Homo sapiens: one gene and its partners. The protein of the gene in region 1 purifies or fractionates together with the protein of each later gene. This does not show direct contact. Each region holds a gene or a part of one and is shown in the gene's direction. Other genes may lie near its edges.

What was found.
Region 2: the proteins of ESRRB (region 1) and DHCR7 purify together in Homo sapiens (affinity purification with mass spectrometry, with the first as the bait; one large-scale study listed by BioGRID). This does not show direct contact.
Region 3: the proteins of ESRRB (region 1) and UBASH3B purify together in Homo sapiens (affinity purification with mass spectrometry, with the first as the bait; one large-scale study listed by BioGRID). This does not show direct contact.
Region 4: the proteins of ESRRB (region 1) and HACD3 purify together in Homo sapiens (affinity purification with mass spectrometry, with the first as the bait; one large-scale study listed by BioGRID). This does not show direct contact.
Region 5: the proteins of ESRRB (region 1) and KDELR2 purify together in Homo sapiens (affinity purification with mass spectrometry, with the first as the bait; one large-scale study listed by BioGRID). This does not show direct contact.
Region 6: the proteins of ESRRB (region 1) and TNFAIP2 purify together in Homo sapiens (affinity purification with mass spectrometry, with the first as the bait; one large-scale study listed by BioGRID). This does not show direct contact.
Region 7: the proteins of ESRRB (region 1) and ACSL3 purify together in Homo sapiens (affinity purification with mass spectrometry, with the first as the bait; one large-scale study listed by BioGRID). This does not show direct contact.

The regions. Positions count from the first base shown.
Region 1 is NC_000014.9:76,477,137-76,480,636, forward strand, and holds part of ESRRB (steroid hormone receptor ERR2), read left to right. Parts: intron 1-3,500.
Region 2 is NC_000011.10:71,433,911-71,436,152, reverse strand, and holds the end of DHCR7 (7-dehydrocholesterol reductase), read left to right. Parts: intron 1-179; coding exon of another isoform or gene 180-313; coding exon 314-778; 3' UTR 779-962; coding exon of another isoform or gene 963-1,043; 3' UTR 1,044-1,742; downstream 1,743-2,242. UniProt on the Homo sapiens protein: Oxidoreductase that catalyzes the last step of the cholesterol synthesis pathway, which transforms cholesta-5,7-dien-3beta-ol (7-dehydrocholesterol,7-DHC) into cholesterol by reducing the C7-C8 double bond of its sterol core.
Region 3 is NC_000011.10:122,781,222-122,784,721, forward strand, and holds part of UBASH3B (ubiquitin-associated and SH3 domain-containing protein B), read left to right. Parts: intron 1-1,831; coding exon 1,832-2,001; intron 2,002-3,500. UniProt on the Homo sapiens protein: Interferes with CBL-mediated down-regulation and degradation of receptor-type tyrosine kinases. Promotes accumulation of activated target receptors, such as T-cell receptors and EGFR, on the cell surface.
Region 4 is NC_000015.10:65,575,463-65,578,849, forward strand, and holds the end of HACD3 (very-long-chain (3R)-3-hydroxyacyl-CoA dehydratase 3), read left to right. Parts: intron 1-840; coding exon 841-917; 3' UTR 918-2,887; downstream 2,888-3,387. UniProt on the Homo sapiens protein: Catalyzes the third of the four reactions of the long-chain fatty acids elongation cycle. This endoplasmic reticulum-bound enzymatic process, allows the addition of two carbons to the chain of long- and very long-chain fatty acids/VLCFAs per cycle.
Region 5 is NC_000007.14:6,463,871-6,467,152, reverse strand, and holds part of KDELR2 (ER lumen protein-retaining receptor 2), read left to right. Parts: intron 1-829; coding exon 830-1,082; intron 1,083-3,282. UniProt on the Homo sapiens protein: Membrane receptor that binds the K-D-E-L sequence motif in the C-terminal part of endoplasmic reticulum resident proteins and maintains their localization in that compartment by participating to their vesicle-mediated recycling back from the Golgi.
Region 6 is NC_000014.9:103,133,461-103,135,699, forward strand, and holds part of TNFAIP2 (tumor necrosis factor alpha-induced protein 2), read left to right. Parts: coding exon 1-57; intron 58-221; coding exon 222-343; intron 344-1,758; coding exon 1,759-1,900; 3' UTR 1,901-2,239. UniProt on the Homo sapiens protein: May play a role as a mediator of inflammation and angiogenesis.
Region 7 is NC_000002.12:222,920,036-222,923,535, forward strand, and holds part of ACSL3 (fatty acid CoA ligase Acsl3), read left to right. Parts: intron 1-1,244; coding exon 1,245-1,395; intron 1,396-2,672; coding exon 2,673-2,796; intron 2,797-3,042; coding exon 3,043-3,114; intron 3,115-3,500. UniProt on the Homo sapiens protein: Acyl-CoA synthetases (ACSL) activates long-chain fatty acids for both synthesis of cellular lipids, and degradation via beta-oxidation.

The DNA.
Region 1 (3,500 bases):
CCATCTTCCCCAACCCCAGGCTAGGGGTGCACAGGTCTGTGTCACAGGACCCTCCCACTCTAAATGGCCCTAGCAAGTCCTGAGTGTGAGGCAGTGCCAGAGCAGGGGAGAAATAGAGCAAGCCAGGGTCCTGTCCTCTAAGAACCCATCGAATCGAAGAGCTGATGGGTATAAAGGGAAACCAGCATGAGGTGGCCTGTGAGGTATCAGATGAATGTTGAAGTGCTATGGGTTGGCAGGAGGGTGGTAGAAGAGATGGCCTCACCCAGCCTACTGGAACTGCTTTCCAGCTTACCAAGCATTTTCTCATCATTAAGTCATACAATTGTCACAAAAGCCATCTACCTTGAGCAGAGTTGGTTTTACCATCGCCTCCTTCCCCAGACCTGAAGATGCAGCTGAAGCCCACTTGTCCAAGGCCAAATAACCTGAAATAACCCGTAAGGGACAGAGATGGGCATGGGACCTTCATTATCGAGCCCATGGGCTGCAGTGATTGTGGGCTGTGCTTAGGGCAGGCTCAGAAGAGCAGACAGGAAGCAAGGGGAACAGACACATTTCACATCAGGTGTCAGTTTGTGCATAATTAAACCCAACAGGCTACTGTTTTTTTAACAGCGTAATCTGATAATTGATACACGTATTGATTGGAGCCATTGACCACTATGCTGTAAAGATCAGGAGGAGAAAATTTAGAGGAGAATTTAACATTTGCTGTGCGCTGGGAGGTCATACCATGGAATGGCAAAAAGCTTGGGTCTTTTATTGGGGAAATCACTGAATCTCTCTGAGCCTCAGTTTTTCTTATTTGTAAAATGAGGATAATAGCACCTGCCTTATATTTTTGTGGGTTAAGTAGGGTAATACATACAGAGAGTCCTTTACAAATTATGCTGTTATCATTATCATTATTCATGTGATTTACCAAAAACTTGGATGCAATGCTGGGGAACAGTAATAATAAGGATGATGATAATAACCATAATAATCCCATTTTCTAAGCACATGCTGCATCTTGGGTACCATGACAGACTTTGGGGCAGGACTGTGAGCCGCCCCTGGCCTTAACGGGTGCCTAGTCAGTAGGGGAAGCCCAGTGTGCTCTGGGAGCCCATGAAGAAGCCCCCAGCCTGGCATGGGGATGAGGAGGACAGAGGTACATCCACCCCTGTATTCATCAAGTCTTTCCTGAACATCCATGAAAGGTCAGGCCCTATATCAGGACACAGAACATCCCAGATGGAGACATCGGCAGAGGTGGCAGCTGCCCATCTCCTTGCCTTGCCGAGGGACAGACACCTCTTTTTATTTTGTGTTGAGCATGCCTCACTCTGATTGACAGCTGCTTGCCGGGAAGCAGGCTGGATGGGAAGCGAGAGTTCATTCCAGTGGTATCTAGGAGAGAAGGTCAGTAAAGTGGGGAAGGGGCTTGTCCTGGACTCAAGGAGAGTATATGTTTAAGATCCTGGCATATAGTAGGTGCTCAGTAAGTGGGGGCCCTTACTGTCTCTTATGGATGAGGTGGACCGTTTTCACTTTCGGTCCTGTCACCATTCCAAGGGGAAGCAGAACTTGGTGGAGGGTTTGGTTTGGCCTGGGTATAGTGAACAGAGGAGGCTTCTATGTAGACATGTCACAGGATAGAGTCAGAAAGCTTTTCTAGACAGGGAACTTTTCCCAAAAGACTTTTACAGGAAGAATCATCCTTCCTGTGTTTGTGTCTGCTCCTTATGCTGTCACTGAAGGGGCTTGCAGGGGGTGAGGGAGCAAATGTGAGCCAAAGTGCTAGCAGCACATAGGTTCAGGTCTGGAGCTGGATGGCATCTAGCTGTCCCTTTAGGGTCCAAGGTACAGGCAGAAGTTGATGGTACAGCTGCGTTTGCTAGGATGCCTTAGTGCAGTGCTCCTCAAACTCTGTTGTCCGTGCAAATCACCTTGTCTGATTCCTCTGTGGCCAGGCCTGAGATTTTGAGGCATCTAACAAGCCTCAAATGATGGTGATGATGCTGGCCTGCAGACCACACTTGAGGAGGAAGACAGCGGAGACTGCTCCTGCCCACACCTACTCAGCACTGTCTGTTTGTGTGTGTGTGTGTGTACGTGTGCATGCGTGCGTGTGTGTGTGTGTGCTGATCTGACGCCTAGGCTTTCTTTGGCCACCAGAGTCTGCTCAGCCTGGACCTGGGAGGCAGGCAAGAAGCGCCAAAGCAGCCGGTAGCTGGGAGCCTCAGTTGCCCACAGCAGTACTGTCCTCAGGAACACATTTGTTATTGGCTTTCTTCCCTCCTTGGAAACTGCTCGCATGCACAGCCTTGTCTCAGATTCTGCTCCTGGAGAAGTCAACAACAAATGTCAGTTACAAAACCTGACCTTCTAGGCAGAAGGGGAGTTTATTGGAAGCCTATCAGGAGGTTCAAAGAGTACATTTAGAAACCAGACAAGAACCAGGAGAATCCCTGGAGAGCCCAGGAGCAGGAAACCCAGTAGCCAGGACATACTGGCCAGGGGCTGCCTACACTCTGCTGGGGAGGCGCTGCTGGTCTGATCAGTCCTCACCTTCGCTCTGTCCTTGTGCCTCCGTTTGATGGTGCACTTGGCTGAGCCTGTGTCACGGGTCCATGCCTTGACCTCCAGAGAGCAGAGAGAAGGAGAACATGTACTTCTCAGATATCCATTGAGGGGTGGGACACAGACTTCCAACAGTTTCCGTATTCCCAATAGGGGAATTACATTTTTTAAATTTTCTTTTGAGATGGAGTCTCACTCTGTTACTCAGGCTGGAGTGCAGTGGTGCAATCTCAGCTCACTGCAACCTCCACCTCCTGGGTTCAAGCGATCCTTGTGCCTCAGCCACCCGAGTAGCTGGAATTACAGGCACGTGCCACCACACCTGGCTAATTTTTGTATTTTTGGTAGAGATGGGGTTTCGCCATGGTAGCTAGGCTGATCTTGAACTCCTGACCTCAAGGGCTACGGCCTCCCAAAGTGCTGGGATTACAGGGGTGAGCCACCGCACCTGACCAGGGGAATTACCTTTAAACAGGAAGCCTGGGTGGGCTGCTGAGTAGACTCCCCCTCTCCCCGACTAAAAAACGTTTAGCACCAGGTACAAATACACCAGGTTGTGGGGTTGAAAAAGACATTGCTGACAAAAATGAGGAGTTGTGGGCTCACTCAGTGAACTCACAGCATCCTTGCCCTCCAGGGCTGGAGTCCTGAACTGAAAACACCTGGGGCAGCAGAGGGGTGGGGGGTAGTGTCCTTAGCATCCCAAAGTTCCTTTAGGGCAATGTGCACTTAAAGGAGTTTTCTCCACTCATTCAGTAAACAAAGTAATTTTGCTTTCAGTTGCTCTAGGAAACTTCCTTCTTCTCAGGGACTGAAATTTAGTAGCTGAACATCCTAACAAAGAAACAGCCAGAAAATAGCCCCAGGCATGAATGGGCTCTAAATCATCATTCCATTAAGTAACCATTGTTCTGACTTCCCCTTGCCTGTTC
Region 2 (2,242 bases), on another chromosome or scaffold:
ACAATATTAAATTCAGATTATATTTTTAATACTGTTACATATTTGATGTTTATGCTATATGTCATATATATAGGGGGTATATATACACACACACATACACACACAGACAGGTAGAAGGCAGGTAGAGTTACTCATTTAATGACCACAACAGCCCTCAAGGTTGGTGCTTTTATTCACAGAAGAGAACACGGAGGCAAGGCGTGTGTCAGAGGCAGAGCTGGGGTTTGACCCCAGGCCGCTGGGCCCCCGAGCCCACACTCCTGTCCTCTCCCTGGGCAAAGCACCGCTTGACCCCTTCCCCCTCGCCCCCCAGGGTCTGTACTTGGTGTACCACCCCGTGCAGCTGTCCACCCCGCACGCCGTGGGCGTCCTGCTGCTGGGCCTGGTGGGCTACTACATCTTCCGGGTGGCCAACCACCAGAAGGACCTGTTCCGCCGCACGGATGGGCGCTGCCTCATCTGGGGCAGGAAGCCCAAGGTCATCGAGTGCTCCTACACATCCGCCGATGGGCAGAGGCACCACAGCAAGCTGCTGGTGTCGGGCTTCTGGGGCGTGGCCCGCCACTTCAACTACGTCGGCGACCTGATGGGCAGCCTGGCCTACTGCCTGGCCTGTGGCGGCGGCCACCTGCTGCCCTACTTCTACATCATCTACATGGCCATCCTGCTGACCCACCGCTGCCTCCGGGACGAGCACCGCTGCGCCAGCAAGTACGGCCGGGACTGGGAGCGCTACACCGCCGCAGTGCCTTACCGCCTGCTGCCTGGAATCTTCTAAGGGCACGCCCTAGGGAGAAGCCCTGTGGGGCTGTCAAGAGCGTGTTCTGCCAGGTCCATGGGGGCTGGCATCCCAGCTCCAACTCGAGGAGCCTCAGTTTCCTCATCTGTAAACTGGAGAGAGCCCAGCACTTGGCAGGTGTCCAGTACCTAATCACGCTCTGTTCCTTGCTTTTGCCTTCAAGGGAATTCCGAGTGTCCAGCACTGCCGTATTGCCAGCACAGACGGATTTTCTCTAATCAGTGTCCCTGGGGCAGGAGGATGACCCAGTCACCTTTACTAGTCCTTTGGAGACAATTTACCTGTATTAGGAGCCCAGGCCACGCTACACTCTGCCCACACTGGTGAGCAGGAGGTCTTCCCACGCCCTGTCATTAGGCTGCATTTACTCTTGCTAAATAAAAGTGGGAGTGGGGCGTGCGCGTTATCCATGTATTGCCTTTCAGCTCTAGATCCCCCTCCCCTGCCTGCTCTGCAGTCGTGGGTGGGGCCCGTGCGCCGTTTCTCCTTGGTAGCGTGCACGGTGTTGAACTGGGACACTGGGGAGAAAGGGGCTTTCATGTCGTTTCCTTCCTGCTCCTGCTGCACAGCTGCCAGGAGTGCTCTGCCTGGAGTCTGCAGACCTCAGAGAGGTCCCAGCACCGGCTGTGGCCTTTCAGGTGTAGGCAGGTGGGCTCTGCTTCCCGATTCCCTGTGAGCGCCCACCCTCTCGAAAGAATTTTCTGCTTGCCCTATGACTGTGCAGACTCTGGCTCGAGCAACCCGGGGAACTTCACCCTCAGGGGCCTCCCACACCTTCTCCAGCGAGGAGGTCTCAGTCCCAGCCTCGGGAGGGCACCTCCTTTTCTGTGCTTTCTTCCCTGAGGCATTCTTCCTCATCCCTAGGGTGTTGTGTAGAACTCTTTTTAAACTCTATGCTCCGAGTAGAGTTCATCTTTATATTAAACTTCCCCTGTTCAAATAAGTGGCTGTGTGGTTTCTGACTGGTGAATGGGCCTGACTCGTGAATGGGCCTGACTGCAGGTCTGACTGGTATACGTGGGCTCTGTTTCTGGTATGAGAAGGGATGTCTGAGAGAGATGCTTGGGTCTCGGCGTCAAAGCATTGGGTGCCCGTGGGTGCGTGGCGCCACCCTGCCCCTCTCCCTCCCATGTCAGCCCTTTGCTGGGGCTGTTTTTGGGTTGAATGTGGAGAGTATTCCATTCCCCCCCAAGGAGATGAAACCAGGCTTGGCCACCTGCCCCCGGCAAGTGAATGGAGAAGCCAGAAAGAGTGCCAGGTTTGTCTTGCACCTGGAGAAACAAGAGTTTCACACAGGCAGCCCAGTGCCCATGCCAGGGCAGGGGGCCAAGCTCAGAGTGGCTTCATTGCTTCACATGAGAACTGGTCCCACAGCCAGGCCGCCTCCCAGACAGCCTGGAGGGTATCGGAACTGTGACCCGCCCAGGCTGACTGCTGAGCCCT
Region 3 (3,500 bases), on another chromosome or scaffold:
GACTTCAGTGAAGCCTGACATTTCATAGGAGCTTAATATTTCAGAGAAAGAGCATAACTGAGAGGCAAATTATTTCCTGCTCTTATCCCTCAATCTCAAGGAAATGGCTTTCTCTCATCCCACAGTAGTTATTGTCAGAACCACTAAATCCCCACAAGGACCAAAACTAATGTCAAAGCCGCAAAACCCAAATCCTTCACAAATGAGAAAAGCAAGCCTCAGCCAGGGCCGCACAGATTCTTGGAGTGCATACTGAGTGAGCAGCAGTCGAAGCCCCAGCTTTCCCTGTGGGACGCGGGTGGAGCCAATTCCTCTCCAAGATCCTGCTGTCATGAAGAACTTGGCCGGCTTCGTTTCTCTGCTGTTGTGTGGCCCCCTGGTGGGGATGTGGAGAACTGGATGACCCTGCGCAGCTTAGCTGGTCCCGCTCCTTATTACCCAGCATGGGAAGCCGGCCACCATGTCTTTGCCCTGGAACTTGGTATTCTCCAGTTGTTGGCAGGACCAGATATCATCAAGTAGATTTAGTGTCTTCCTCCATTTGAAGTGGTCAAGGGAGATTCATTCATGTGCATTTATTCATTTAACAAGTACTGAAAACCTGCATGATATGCTGAGTAAGGATACAGTGTAAGCGAGAGACAAAAACCTTGTTTCATGGGGCTTACACCAAAGAAAGGCAATGCAGTATAAAAGAAAAAGTACTTAAAACCGAAATGCTCAATTTCTAGTTCTATCTTGGGCCACTAATTCTCTGTGTGACTTGACCAAGTTCCTTAAATTCTCAAATTCCCTAATTTCTTCTAGTTGCAACTTCTTCATTATTCTAGTTTGTACAGTAGATGATTCTCCCTCATTGTAAATACAAAAGAGGCCAGGCATGGTGGTTCACACCTGTAGTCCCAGCTACTCAGGAAGCTGAGGTGGGAGCATCACTTGAGCCCAGGAGGTGGAGGCTGTGGTGAGCTATGATCATGCCACTTAACTCTAGCCTGGGCAACAGAGAAAGACCCTGTCTCAAAAAAAAAAAAAAGTACCAGAGAGAGAAAAAAAAGCCATTCCCTCCTATAGGTAGGGTTGTTTTGTTTTGTCTCTTGGGATATCTTAGAATAACAGTCTGTATACTTTAAACCAGTATGTCTCAACTAAGGGTGATTTTGTCTCCCAGGGTACATTTGGCAATGTCTGAGGTCATTTTCAATTGTTACAGCTTGGAGAGTGCTGCTGACGTCTTGTGGGTAGAGGCCAGGGATGCTGCGAAACACCCCATCATGCACAGGACAGCCACCCCCCCCAAAAAATAATTATTCAACCCAAAATGCTGTTGAGAGAAACCCTGCATTAAACTTTGAAAATATCCATCTTTTCCCCTCATTTCTCCATCAATCTCACCCAGAAGCTAAGACACGTGATTCCAAAATGAAGGGAATAGAGCTTTGGGAGTCACGCAGCTATAAAACATGCTTTGTATTTCTACACAAATTATTTCATCACTGTAGGTCATAGTGCCCTCTTCTGAAAGGTGGGGCTGGTGACCACCAACTGGAATGTTGTGAGAAGGACTTAACTAAAAGGACTGCCCTCAGCTGACCCGCAGCTCCTAGAGGAAAGCCGTATGGTGGCTATCTCTTGAACAGTGGCTTGATTCGGAATCTCTTGCCATCCCCTTACCCCCTTATTCTACTGCTGTGAAGGAGAGAAACGTCTTTTGTCTTCTTTGTTATGTGGGAAGCAGAATTTCTCAGGGTACCTTTCTATGCCTTTCCTTAAGTCTTCACCATTGCTATCATCACCACCTTTTAATTACTGACCTTTTTCTTCCTTTTTCCAGAAGTGCATGTGGAACCTCATAAGAAGCAGCTACATGTGACCCTGGCTTACCACTTCCAAGCCAGCCACCTACCCACCCTAGAGAAACTGGCCCAGAACATTGACGTCAAGCTAGGGTGTGACTGGGTGGCTACCATATTTTCTCGGGATATCCGATTTGCTAACCATGAGGTAATGTCTCACTGTGGTTCCAGAAGCTACCAGGTGCAGGGATGCAATCAGAATCAGCAGCTCGCTGCTGCAGGGAGATGGGTACCTACAGGGGAAAAATGGAGCAAGCACCTAACAGAGAGTCCGTTGGCTCAGGATTGTGTCCAGCCTCTGCTTGCCTCACTGGGAGGCTTCCAGCTTGCCTCCCTCCTCTCTGGGTCACAAGTGGTTCATCTGGGTAACATCCCCCTAGTTCTGTCTCCCCTGCCAATCCAACTCCAGCAAAAAAGAAATGAAATGGGAGAGAATAAATAAAAAATATATTGGAAAATTTTTAATATTATATAAATTTATGGTGTTAATGGAAGACATCATTTTGACCTTAGGTGAGTTGAAGAACATATAAATACCAAAGAAAACAAAACAAAAAACAAAAACACTTGCAAAGACATAATCAACAGATATTTGCTGTGTATCTGTATCATGCAAAGTACCATGGAGCATACTGGAATTTTTAAATGTTGTCCTGTCCTCAAGGAGCTTTGAGAACAGACACACATGAAAAGAAAACTCAAGTCACCTCTTGTGAGAGTTTCTGCACATCCCAGTGGGAGGCCTGAGTGAGAAAACTGAATTCCATCACAAGAAGAAAGATTGGTACACCCCTAGCACCCTTCCTTTGAGGGAATCAACATTGCCTTCTAGACAAGTATGTGACATCTTGGAAGCATAATATTGCCTTTTTTTTTTTTTTTTAAATGGAGTTTCATTCCTTGTTGCCCAGGCTGGAGTGCAATGGCACGATCTTGGCTCACTGCAACCCCTGCCCCTGGGGTTCAAGCGATTCTCCTGCCTCAGCCTCCCTAGTAGCTGGGATTACAGGCACCCGCCACCACACTGGGCTAATTTTTTGTATTTTTAGTAGTGCCGGGGTTTCACTGTGTTGGCCAGACTGGTCTTGATCTCAGGTGATCTGCACGCCTCGGTGTCTCAAAGTGCTGGGATTACAAGCGTGAGCCGCAGCACCTGGCCAATAGTGTCTTTTTCTATCCTGAAGGAGAAGCTGAGACACAAAAAACATTAGTGTCTTAGTAATTTAGGGCTAGAGATGAAGCAAGAGCCCATGTATTTTGACCAATAAAGAAGGGCAACCTGTCTGAAACAAAACTACATCATAGCCAGGCATGGTGGCTGTCACCTATGATCCCAGCACTTTGGGAGGCTGAGGCAGGAGTATTGCTTGAGACCAGGAGTTCCAAACCAGCCTGGGCAGCATAGTGAGACTGTATCTCTACCCACCCACAAAAGACCTCATCGTTTGTTAAAAATGTGCCTTCCAACTTAACTACATTTATTAAGCAATACTTATATTTGTTTCCCAATTTTTCAAACAGCCAAAGAACTGGTATTTTTGTTAGTTTACATAGCCTTTTAACATCTCTTTTAGACTTCTTTAAAAAACAAAACATGAAAAACAGTTAGAACCCCAGGGCTGGGAGCAGGCAAGCTCATTGTTTTGG
Region 4 (3,387 bases), on another chromosome or scaffold:
CGGTCGTGAGCCACCACGCCTGGCCATGTTCTTGAGTAGGCTTGAATTAAAAATTAGGTTGTTTCTGCACTTTAGATTTGTGCATTTCATTGTAAATTTTACTGTAAAAGAAAGAAAGAATATTGAACTATACCTACCTGAAGAATTAGGGGGGTGAGGTGTATTGATATCTGCAACTTAACACTGAAGTGCATAAAAAATGAGATGGCTGGAGGGATAGATGAATAGGGATGTGATATAGCCAATATAGTAAAAAGCAGTAAATCTAGATGTTCCCTGTATAATGATTTAATCTTTTGCGTGTTTGAAAATTTTATAAGAGAAAAAAATGTTTTAAACTCACTGGGAGGCTGGGTGTGGTGGCTTACGCCTGTAATCCCAGTACTTTGGGAGGCCAAGCTGGGCAGATCATTTGAGGTCAGGAGTTTGAGACTAGCCTGACCAACATGGTGAAACCCCACCTCTACTAAAAATACAAAAAATTAGCCAGGCATGGTGGTGGACGCCTGTAATCCCAGCTACTCAGGAGGCTGAGGCAGGAGGATTGCTTGAACCCAGGAGGCGGAGGTTGCAGTGAGCTGAGATTGTGCCACTGCACTCCAGCCTGGGTGACAGAATGAGACCCTGTCGCAATAAATAAATAAATAAACCCACTGGGGAAAAATTGCTTTGTGTCTATTGTATTGTTAATTTGTTCTAAATTGTACTCCTTCCTGAGCCGCTGCAATAAGCTTTTTGCTGTGGAATATGACGACAGCTAGATACTGTCCCTGCCACAAGAGCTTCTGGTTATAAATAGACAAAGACTCTAATTTCTAATTGACCTCTTTTCTTTTTCAGGTTTATACATAAATTTTCGTCACCTTTATAAACAGCGCAGACGGCGCTATGGACAAAAAAAGAAAAAGATCCACTAAAAAGAAAGATTTAGATGGCTTCTTGCCAGTTTGAGCCTAATCTGATTCTTACAGTTTTACCTTCTTGAACCAATGTAAAAGTTTTTTTAATGTTAAATGATTAAATTCTCAGTGAGGCTATCTTCCTTTTCCCCAGTAACATTCCTGAATTTACTGTTATCTTATTGTAGTACTTGCATGACATGGATTCCTGATATCTGATGAGAGGTTCATTCTTGTGTATTCAGTTAATGACACCAAAAGGCTCAGCCCACCCCAACCCTATCTCATGTTCAGTCTGTCTAATACATGCCAGAGATTTTTTTTTCAAAAAGTGCTTTATCCCTACAATGTACTGACAGTTCTTACAGTTGAGATTTGTTCTTTTCAGCTATTGCTTGTGAAAAAAAGCAAGACTATGTCACTCTATAGAAGGCTGTTAAAGTGACTCAGGCAGGAATTAATTATTCTGTACCTAAGGGGTTACTTGTTTAATGGGATGGCATTGACTTTTTGAAAATCAAGTGGACTGAGTCATTGATAAAACATTTCTAAGAGTGGGGCTAGAGAACATACTTTACATCTGACATCCTTTGGCCTAACAACATCTATTATTATAGTGCTCAGCAGTGTGGGCATTGAAGAGGCGCAGAATGCTTTGAAAGAAACTAATCAGAATCTTGGAACATCATGATCATGCCATTCTTAAGTAAATCAACTATTTTCAACACTGAAGAAAAATGAAACATTATTTAGAAAACAATGAGATTACAAGTTCCAAACTCAGCCAGGAATGTGGCTCACACCTGTAATCCCAGCACTTTGGGACACCTAGGTGGGAGCATCGCTTGAAGCCAGGAGTTCAAGACCAGCTTGGGCAACGTAGTGAGACCCCTATCTCTACAAAAAATAAAAAAATTAGCTGGGTGTGATGGCACACACCTGTTGTCCCAGCTACTCAAGAAGCTGAGATGGGAGGATCCTGAGCTCAGGAGGTCAAGGCTGCAGTGAGCCGAGATTGTGCCACTGCACTGCAGCTGGGGTGACAGTGCAAGACCCTGTCTCAAACCAAACCAAACCACACACACACAAACACACATACACACACACACACACGAGGTCCAAATGGTAGCAGGGATCCAAAGGGAACACAGTATGTAGGTCAAACTGGCAGTAACAGTGTACAGCCTTTGACAAACTAGAAATATTAGAGTAGGCCAAACACACCTCCAAACTGTAAGGCTGTGCACAAACATAAAAAATGGCAGCCTTCCATCTCCTGCACTGGCTGAGTCCATTTACTTGTGTACTTGTTCTAGTGAGTGGTGGGACTGTACATTTTTGAATAGACCTCAAAAATACTTCATTCTGCTGCTGTTCAGTTGGCTTTTTAAACCTGTCTGCAGTAGGACACTGAAAACAGCAAGAACTTCGGGGTGAACACCCGCTGATCCTTTAACAAGGATTTCTGGCAGGAAACTCACAAAAAGGAGAACTGAAAATTTAGACATACAGTTGGCCATTGTAAAAAACATCAGTTTCCTCTCATACATTCCAAGTAAACCAAGTAAAATAAGTGTTGGAGTAACACTTGCATAAAAGAATTTAAGGAGTGATAGCTCTTTCTGTTCTGCCATTCCCAACATTCCTGGGGGAAAGGAGACTCAATGAGTTAATACTATTTCACTGAGCCCAAGATGGAAACTTGGTTTGACCTAAAACATCTGATTAATATAGGCTAGCTGATTTCTTAAAAATTCGTTGCATTGAAGGATATTTTGCATGTCTGTAACACCTGTCAATACTTGTTTGTATTGATTTCTGATATTCTTGCAGCTGACTACGTGTAATTGGGCAGATCAGCTTTGCAGTAGATTATGCTGCATCCTCGTGGCAAAATTCTGTATTCTTAGTGATTGTTACAAACCCCTTTATTGCTGTCTGAGAAAGTGAAAGATTGTGTATTTCTATTAAAACATTTACAATCAAAATTCTAATGACTGTGCTTAAAGATAATTTAGTCTAATGGTTCTCTGTTAGTGATAAAGACCTTTGTTCAGGCAAAATATTATGTAGCAGTTCAGCATGTTAAACCAAAAACAGTTGCTCTGGTTGAAGCCTGAGAGTTACATGGAAGGTGGTGCAAATGAAAAACACTGATGATGCAGACAAAGCCTTGAGAAGTTGCCCAAAGTCATAAAGCTAGCTGATAAATTGGAACCATAATTAACTTTGGAATCGGATCGGTGATCTGTCAGGATTACCTAGCCAGAACCTTGCTTAGGCAATGAGGCCTAATCAGTGTCAGAAATAAGGAAACCTCATGATTTATGAATCTATGCCACTTAGAAAGTTGAAATTATATTAAAGTGATAAGACAGACCAAAAGCAAACGACCTTTAGTTTCATAGTGAAACCATTTTCTAGAAAATCAAATATTTTATTTTCATTAAAAAAAAACCTTGAATAATAGGAATCATTTTACACATTA
Region 5 (3,282 bases), on another chromosome or scaffold:
TGTAGATTCATAGAAAATTGAAGAGGGAAGAATAAACCTGGAGAGACAAGGTGATGAAAATTCAAAGAGGTAGAGGTGTCCAGGTTACCCAGCTTGTCACACTGGCAGTGCCTTGCCTCTTAAAGGTTGCTTAAGTTTCTGTGATTTATGCCAGGAGTCCTCAACCCCTGGGCCACTGACTGGTACTGGTTCATAGCCTGTTAGGAACCAGGCCACCCAGGAGGAGATGAGCCGTGGGTGAGCAAGTGAAGCTTCATTGTATTTATAGCTGCTCCCCATCACTCACATTACTGCCCAAGCTCCACCTCCTGTCAGATAACTGGCAGCATTCAATTCTCATAGGAGCATGAGCCCTATTGTGAACTGTGCATCTGAGGGATCTAGGTTGCATGCTCCTTATGAAAATCTAATGCCTGATGATCTGTCACTGTCTCCCATCACCCCCAGATAGGACCATCTAGTTGCAGGAAAACAAGCTCAGGGCTCCTACTGATTCTGCATTATGACGAGTTGTATAATTATTTCATTGTATATTATAGTAATAACAGAAGTAAAGTGCACAATGATTGCAATGTGCTTGAATCATCCCGAAACCATCCATCCACCCTGCTGGTCTGTGGAAAAATTGTCTTCTATGAAACCGATCACTGGTGTCAAAAAGGCTGGGACCACTGGGTTATGCAGTTGCCAAGCTGTTGTTCTATTTTGGGCCGACATGCCCCACTCCCCACTCATCTTAGGCTGCTTTGTGGTAAAGAAAGCAAGAGTGTTTCCTCTGAGCTCCTGGTGGGCAGTGGGTCGTGATGGAAGCTTGCCATTTCTCTTCCAGATCCTCTGGACCTTCTCCATCTACCTGGAGTCCGTGGCTATCCTTCCGCAGCTATTTATGATCAGCAAGACTGGGGAGGCCGAGACCATCACCACCCACTACCTGTTCTTCCTGGGCCTCTATCGTGCTTTGTATCTTGTCAACTGGATCTGGCGCTTCTACTTTGAGGGCTTCTTTGACCTCATTGCTGTGGTGGCCGGCGTAGTCCAGACCATCCTATACTGTGACTTCTTCTACTTGTACATTACAAAAGGTATGTTGGGTGCGACCTGCGTTGTTTCTAGAGTGACGTGTTCTTTTAGGAGTGCCCTTGCCCAGCACTCTTCTAATCTGGCACTCTCTCATAAACTGGCTCCAGAGAAACACTTTCATGATTGGCCAATAACATTCTGGATCAGGATGTTGTCTTTTTAAATATAAGAACCCTTTTTCTTTTGCAATAGCTTTTCCTAAAGTGACACATTTTCACTGTAAAAGATTCATCTGGTGTTTCAGTGAACATTAACACCAGATACCTCTCTATGCATACACAGACACATGACTTAAACTGTACATTGCTGTTCTATACACTGCTTTTATCCCCTCACATTTTTCATGTCACTAGAAATCTACATAATTTTCAGTAGCCACAGAGTGTTTCATTATGTGCATGTACCATAATTTATTTACCCAGCCCCCATTCATGGGTGGTCAGGCCGTTACTGGTTTGCTGTTAAAATCCAGTCATTAAATCAGCATCCTTGTGTATATGTGTTTTTGCATTTGTATGAACATAGGACGTGTGAACTTTACAAATATTTGATGAAAGCTATCATCCTTGTTCAGAAAAAAAAAAACATTTATGCCAGGTGCAGTGGCTCACGCCTGTAATCGAGCACTTTGGGAGGCCGAGGCGGGCGGATCATGAGGTCAGGAGATCGAGACCATCCTGGCTAACACGTGAAACCCCGTCTCTACTAAAAATACAAAAAACTTAGCCAGGCGTGGTGGTGGGCGCCTGTAGTCCCAGTTACTCGGGAGGCTGAGGCAGGAGAATGGTGTGAACCTGGGAGGCGGAGCTTGCAGTGAGCCCAGATCGCGCCACTGCACTCCAGCCTGGGTGACAGTGCGAGACTCTCTCTCTCAAAAAAAAAAAAAAAAAAGATATTTACGCAAATGCACCCAAATGCATGTATATAGTTTTGAGGGGTTCAGGAGCCCCTGAAACCCAACCACAGATCCCAGGCTAAAAATCCAGCTATACAATAAAATTCCTAATGGTGGAATTGCTAGGTAAAAAGCATATATAGGTCGGGTGCGATGGCTCACGCCTATAATCTCAGCACTTTGGGAGGCCGAGATGGGTGGATCGTCTGAGGTCAGGAGTTCAAGACTAGCCTGACCAACATGGCGAAACCCCATCTCTACTAAAAATACAAAATTAGCCGGGTGTGGTGGCACATGGCCTGTAATCCCAGCTACTTGGGGGGCTGAGGCAGGAAAATCTCTTGAACCCGGGAGGCAGAGGTTGCAGTGAGCTGATATCACGCCATTGCACTCCAGCCTAGGGAACAAGAGCAAAACTCTGTCTCAAAAAAAAAAAAAAAAAAGAAAAAAAAGAGCATATATGTCTTATCTCTTTCCTTTTGTTTTTTTTGAGACCGAGTCTCTCTCACCCAGGCTAGAATGCAGTGGCTTGCTCTCAGCTCACTGCAACCTCTGCCTCCCAAGTTCAAGCGAGTCTGCTGTCTCAGCCTCCCGAGTAGCTGAGATTACAGTCGCGCACTACCATGCCTGGCTAATTTTGTTTTGTTTTGTTTTGTTTTGAGACTGAGTCTTGCTCTGTCACACAGGCTGGAGTGCAGTGGCGCAATCTCGGCTCACTGCAACCTCCACCTTGCAGCTTCAAGTGATTCTCGTGCCTTGACCACCCTAGTAACTGGGATTACAGGTGCGCACCACCACGCCCGGCTAATTTTTGTATTTTTAATAGAGACGGGGTTTCACCTTGTTGGCCAGGCTGGTCTTGAACTCCCAACCTCGTGATCCGCACACCTCAGCCTCCCAAAGTATTGGGATTACAGGCGTGAGCCACCACGCCTAGCTTTTTTTTTTTTTTTTTTTTTTTTTTTTTTTTTTTTTTTTTTGAGACAGAGTTTTGCTCTTGTTGCCCAGGCTGGAGTGCAATGGTACAATCTTGGCTCACCGCAACCTCCACCTCCTGTGTTCAAGCGATTCTCCTGCCTCAGCCTCCTGAGTAGCTGGGATTACAGGCATGCACCACCACGCCCAGCTAATTTTTGTATTTTTAGTAGAGATGGAGTTTCTCTATGTTGGTCAGGCTGGTCTCGAACTCCCGACCTCAGGTGATCCTCCTGCCTCAGCCTCCCCAAGTGCTGGGATTACAAGCATGAGCCACTGTGCCCAGCCTAATTTTTGTATTTTTATTAGAGATGGTGTTTCACCATGTTGGC
Region 6 (2,239 bases), about 27 Mb from region 1:
CTGGCTGGGTACATCCTGGCCAATGCTGACACCATCCAGCACTTCTGCACCCAGCACGTAAGCCGCTGCCCACCTCTCCCAAGCCCCTCTGAAATGGCTGCCTCTTCTCCCCTAGCCCTTTCAGGGTCGGAGATAGGCCGCTGGTGCCTCTCTAAGCCCAACGAGTCGCTGACCCGAGCCTCTGGACCCCTGGGTCCCTCCAACCACACCCACTCCTGCAGGGCTCCCCGGCGACCTGGCTGCAGCCTGCTCTCCCTACGCTGGCCGAGATCATTCGCCTGCAGGACCCCAGTGCCATCAAGATTGAGGTGGCCACTTATGCCACCTGCTACCCTGACTTCAGGTGAGAACCTGGGGCACCTCAGGACCACTGTCACATCACTGTGGCCAAGGCCTCACAGGGCTGGCATTGGGAACCCAGATCCTGGCAGCTGCCCACGTGCCAGTCACTGTGTGAACCTCACCAGGGGCTCATTCTTGTGGCCTTCACCACAGCACTACGAGGACAATACTTCCCATTCCCGTTTCACAGAGGAGGCCTGGAGAGCTCACAGGATGTGTCCAAGGTGACACGGCTAGTTAGTGTCTGGCTGCATGGCCCACACTCTTAGCTTTACCTGACACTGCCTCTCACAGGGGAGACTGAGACCAGAGAGGCCAGCTTCACCCAGCCTGGGGGGCCTCTGCGGCCTAGGCCTATGCTCTGGGACCAGGGCTCATATTCGGGAGTGGAGGCTTAGCCCTTGGCTGCCTGAAGTTCTGGTGGGCCAGGGACATTGTTTCTTCCTGGGCTGGGTCCTCTGACATGTTAGGGTAAGTTTGAATGGGTCTTGACAGGGTTGACCCCAGCTTCGCCAAGTCCAGTCCCTGTCTGATCCATTCCACCCATTCATTCATTCACCCACCATACAAGCACCCATCTGCTCATCCACCCATTCCTTCACCCATCTGGCTATCCGTCTATCTTCTCACCCACTCATCACCTGTCTACCCATCCACCCACCCACCCACCCACCCGTCTATCCATCCATCTATTCATCCACCTACCCATGTAAGCACCCATCCACCCATCTACTCATCCATCCACCCCTCCACCCATTTAGCTATCCATCCACTCAACCACTCACCCACCCACCCATCCACCCATGCATCTACTCACTCATCCATGCTCCCATCCCTCCACCCATCTAGCTCTCATCCATCTGCTCACCCACCCACCATCCATCTACCTATGCCACCAACAATTATGGAGAAGTCTGCTAGGTGTCAGCCTCTGTTCTAGTTACCAGGATGCAATGAAGTACAAGGGAAGCCAGGTCTCAGTCCTCCCTTAAGTAGCTCATTCTGTTGAGGGCCAGCAATACTAATGACATAATCAGGCAAAGAAACAGACAATTACAAGTTGTAAATAGGGTTTAACCAAGGTTGTGAATGATAGGAGGTGCCGACTTTAGAGACAAGAAAGCCTTTTGGGGGTGGACATCTTAGCGGAGACCTAAGGGGTGGGAAGAGGCGGTCATCTCAGGGCCTGGGAAGAACATTGCAGGGGAACAGCCGGTGCGGAGGCCTGAAGCAGGCTGGGGCATGGCTGCTCTTGGGACCATCAGGTGGAGGGCATGGGTGAGGGAGAGTGAAGTGCAGCCCCCTCGTGGGCCGGGCGTTGGCTGTCGGGCCCTGTGGCACTGGCCGGGAGTGCAGGGAGCTGGTGAGTAGGGGTGTGGGTGACAGGCTGGGCTGACAGGATGCTCTCTTTGCCAGCAAAGGCCACCTGAGCGCTATCCTGGCCATCAAGGGGAACCTATCCAACAGTGAGGTCAAGCGCATCCGGAGCATCTTGGACGTCAGCATGGGGGCGCAGGAGCCCTCCCGGCCCCTATTTTCCCTTATAAAGGTTGGTTAGCTTTTCCTGTGGCCTGACCTGCCTGTGAGTGCCCAGCAAGCCTTGGGCACACCCCGCTGGGAGCTGTTAAGAGCAGCGCTGGTTCTCGGTTCCTCCCGGGTCTCCTGTGCTCTGATGCTACTTCTGCCTAGCCCTGGCGGAGGTGCAGGCCCTGTCAGCTGGAACTGGACAGACCTTGGTTTGTTTACATGTCCGATGGGGGCAGGAGCTCCCATCCTGGGCAGCCAACCAGGCAACACCAAGGACTCTTTGTAAACGATAGCTGATCGTGTGCACGCAAGGAAAGAACCAGGAGGGAGAGTGCAGCCAGGCTCAGGGATCCCCGGACACCTCTGTCCA
Region 7 (3,500 bases), on another chromosome or scaffold:
CTAGTAGTATGTGGTTCCTGGAAGCCAAGGGAAAGGAGATCTTGGTGAGTCATCAGCAGGATCAGGGGCTGCATGCAGAGGTCAGATGACACAAGGATTGTAATTTCCAAGAAGTGGTGGTGTTGGAGAAGGGTGCTGTGCATTGAAGGAGTGAAGGGCTGATTTGGAAGTAAAGACTTCCAAGTGTAAACATTATTTAAGAAATGTATCTTGACTGACAGGAGAGGAAGGGTATTCTATTGGGAGTACATTTAAATAATTTTTTCACACTCATTTAGAAGTTCACATGTAGAGTAGTTCTGGGAGTGGTTCAGACATATCAGCAATGCCAACCATGACCTATTTCTCTTTGTTCTTCTGCTGTGCCACCTCTATAGCTTCTCAGCTGTTGTCCTTAGGCTGGTACTCTTCTGATTTCAAATGGTTCACATCGTGTTTTAATGCAGGACTCTGAGTGTAACCAAGTTAGTCACCATTCTGAAGCAGTGAATAGTTTTTAGCAAACACCTAGATACTCTAGTCCAAAGCTACCTTTATTTCTTAGTTGAATTACTGGGATAATCTTGTCTCCCTGATACCTTTTTTCCCCTTGTAAAGTTAGTTAGCCACACAGCAGCCAAAGTGATCTTTTTTTTCACAGATAATAACATACTCCTGTTCAAAACAACATTGCTTTACATCCAGAACGTAATCCAGAGTTCTTCCCGTGGCCTTTGAGGTCCTATGTGTGGTCCCTGATAGCCACTTGACTATTGTTTCTTGCCACTCTTCCTCTTGCTCACTCTGTTCCAGCCACACTCCTTGCTGGTCTTTAGATATGCTGAGCACATTCCTACCTTTGGGTCTTTGCATTTGCTTATTTCCTTCTAATTAGAACACTCTTCTCCCAGTTCCAGGGTTTCCATGGCTCCCTTCCTCACTTTATTCAGGCCTTTGCTAAACGAAACTCTACAGAGACGGTCTCCAGGCTTTTCCATCCAAATAGCATCTATTGTCATCTTCTCACCTTGTCTTGCTTCAGTTTTCTTCATAGGTTAATCTGTTTGTATATCTCAATAGAATATATCTCCCATACGTGCAGGGACTTGATCTGTTTTGTTGATCTCAGTATAACTAATATTTGTTGAATTGAGTTAAATTAACTCAATTTGATTGAGTTATTTATTTGATGATAATGAAAAGAAATTGTTGATACAGCTGAATCTCATGAAAGTGTATGTGTGTGTTTTTTCTCTTCAATGCAGAAAACCAACCTCATAGCAAACCATTGCCCTCAGATATTGCAGTAATCATGTACACAAGTGGATCCACAGGACTTCCAAAGGGAGTCATGATCTCACATAGTAACATTATTGCTGGTATAACTGGGATGGCAGAAAGGATTCCAGAACTAGGGTATGTCATAGTAAAGTAACATTGAGTAGTTAAGTATTTATGTCTGTTATAATGTTAGCATTTGTGTCATTTTATTAATATATGGCTAAATTAGTCCCTCAGAGTCTGTTTGTAGTAGGCATTTCCTTAAAAAATAAAAAAGGACATTAAAATTAATGGCAAAATAGTTATAGTTGTGAGGTTGAAAATATATCATATAGATATATTTTAAAAAGTACAGAACTTAAATTTGTATAGTTGTAAATCCTTTGTTTTAATCAGCTTGTATTTGCTGCTGTAGTTTTTTTTATATCTAAATACAATTCAGGTGAACAGGTAACTTAATTTATCCACTAAGTATTTGTTGAGCTTCAGTATTTGGTCTCTGATTTTTCTTGTTAATACAAACTCCAGTGGTAGCAGTGGAAGGTAGAGTGGAGTGGGGAAGAGACTGATGGAGGAAACCAGATGGAAGTTTGAGGGACTGTCAAGGAAACATTGCCAGAGATGCAATTGGTATTCTGATGACCGATAGGGTACAGTGGTTGGATATTTTTGATGCTTTTATGCACAGAAATTACAAACATACACGCACACACACACTCACGTAATTGCTATGGTACTGAACTTGGGGATGGAGGAATGTCTCTTACGTATGCATACATTTCAGAAAAAATTAAGTGCAACAATTTTCTTACAGGTTTGCCTCAGTTACCTTCTATATTTTGGTTATGGGGGCAGCTCTTGAAGTATATACAAATACTTACACATTTTCTGTATATTAAGATCTAATTTATTATGTAATCCAATTCCCACAACAAGAGTCTTATCTGTAAAATTTCTGGCAGATAGTTGTGGATTCTACTTTAACTCTTCTGGTTGGCAACCCACTAGATGTAAAGACCATTTCCTCCTTGGATGATTTCTTCTGTTCTTCAAAAGAACCCTGTATTATTATTTGTTTAAGCCACTGTTTCTTGTGCCTCAGTACTTTGCTTCAGCAACGCTTATAATTCCTGAGTGCTTTTAAGTAGGACGGGAAACAGCATTCCTTCCTGCAAGTGTGCGCCTCCTTGCTTTTGGGTTGAGCTGTAATTCTTTTTCCCTCCCATCCCCAGCATCTGCCTATCCTCTGTTTTCACCTGTCTCTCTCTCTCTCTCACAAACACATACACACTTGACCAGCAAATTGATGCCCTGGGGCCCTTCCATGTGCCTTCAAGCTTGCTCCCATTATAGGGCACTTTTGGCATAGACGACACCTGACTTTTGTTTCTGACGTCTCCCTTTTCTTTTAGAGAGGAAGATGTCTACATTGGATATTTGCCTCTGGCCCATGTTCTAGAATTAAGTGCTGAGCTTGTCTGTCTTTCTCACGGATGCCGCATTGGTTACTCTTCACCACAGACTTTAGCAGATCAGGTAAGTTCAGTGTCTGTGACTTGAAATACTAAAAAATCATAGTGAATTGTAATGCATTTTTTTCAGTCAGTATGACAGTATATTGCGAGAGCGATGGTTCATTTTAAAATGAGCTTTAGCCTTTTAAGTGCTTCTTAGACTGTAAGTACATTAAAATAATTTATAATAGGCTTTTTGATCTAAGAATACCATTGAATTTTAAAAATAAGGATCACTTTATATGGATCACTTTTTCTTATTTTGTAGTCTTCAAAAATTAAAAAAGGAAGCAAAGGGGATACATCCATGTTGAAACCAACACTGATGGCAGCAGTTCCGGTAAGAAGTGACCCTTATTTAATATTGAGTATTAAAGAAGTATCACCCGCTACAAAGCATTAGTGCTAGTGAAAAATATATTGTTGACAAGGTAGTTTATGTAGGATTTATTCCTTATTGATTATAAATATTGCCTTAGGCGCTATGGGATTTCTTCAGTCTTGTTTTAGCTTGCTTTCTTATTTACTAAGCACTCAACTTAATTTCAGCTTCTGTGTGTAATTATCAACTTGTTTGCCTAAATACCTTCTTGTTAAAATAAAAATTATTTTCATGATATCTGTTGGTGAATTCATTGACACTTGAAGCCTATTGAGAGCTAGGAGGGAAAGTGTGAGATCACCTCCTTTTAAGCAAGCTGTATAGTTACCTCCTGAGTCCTCAGG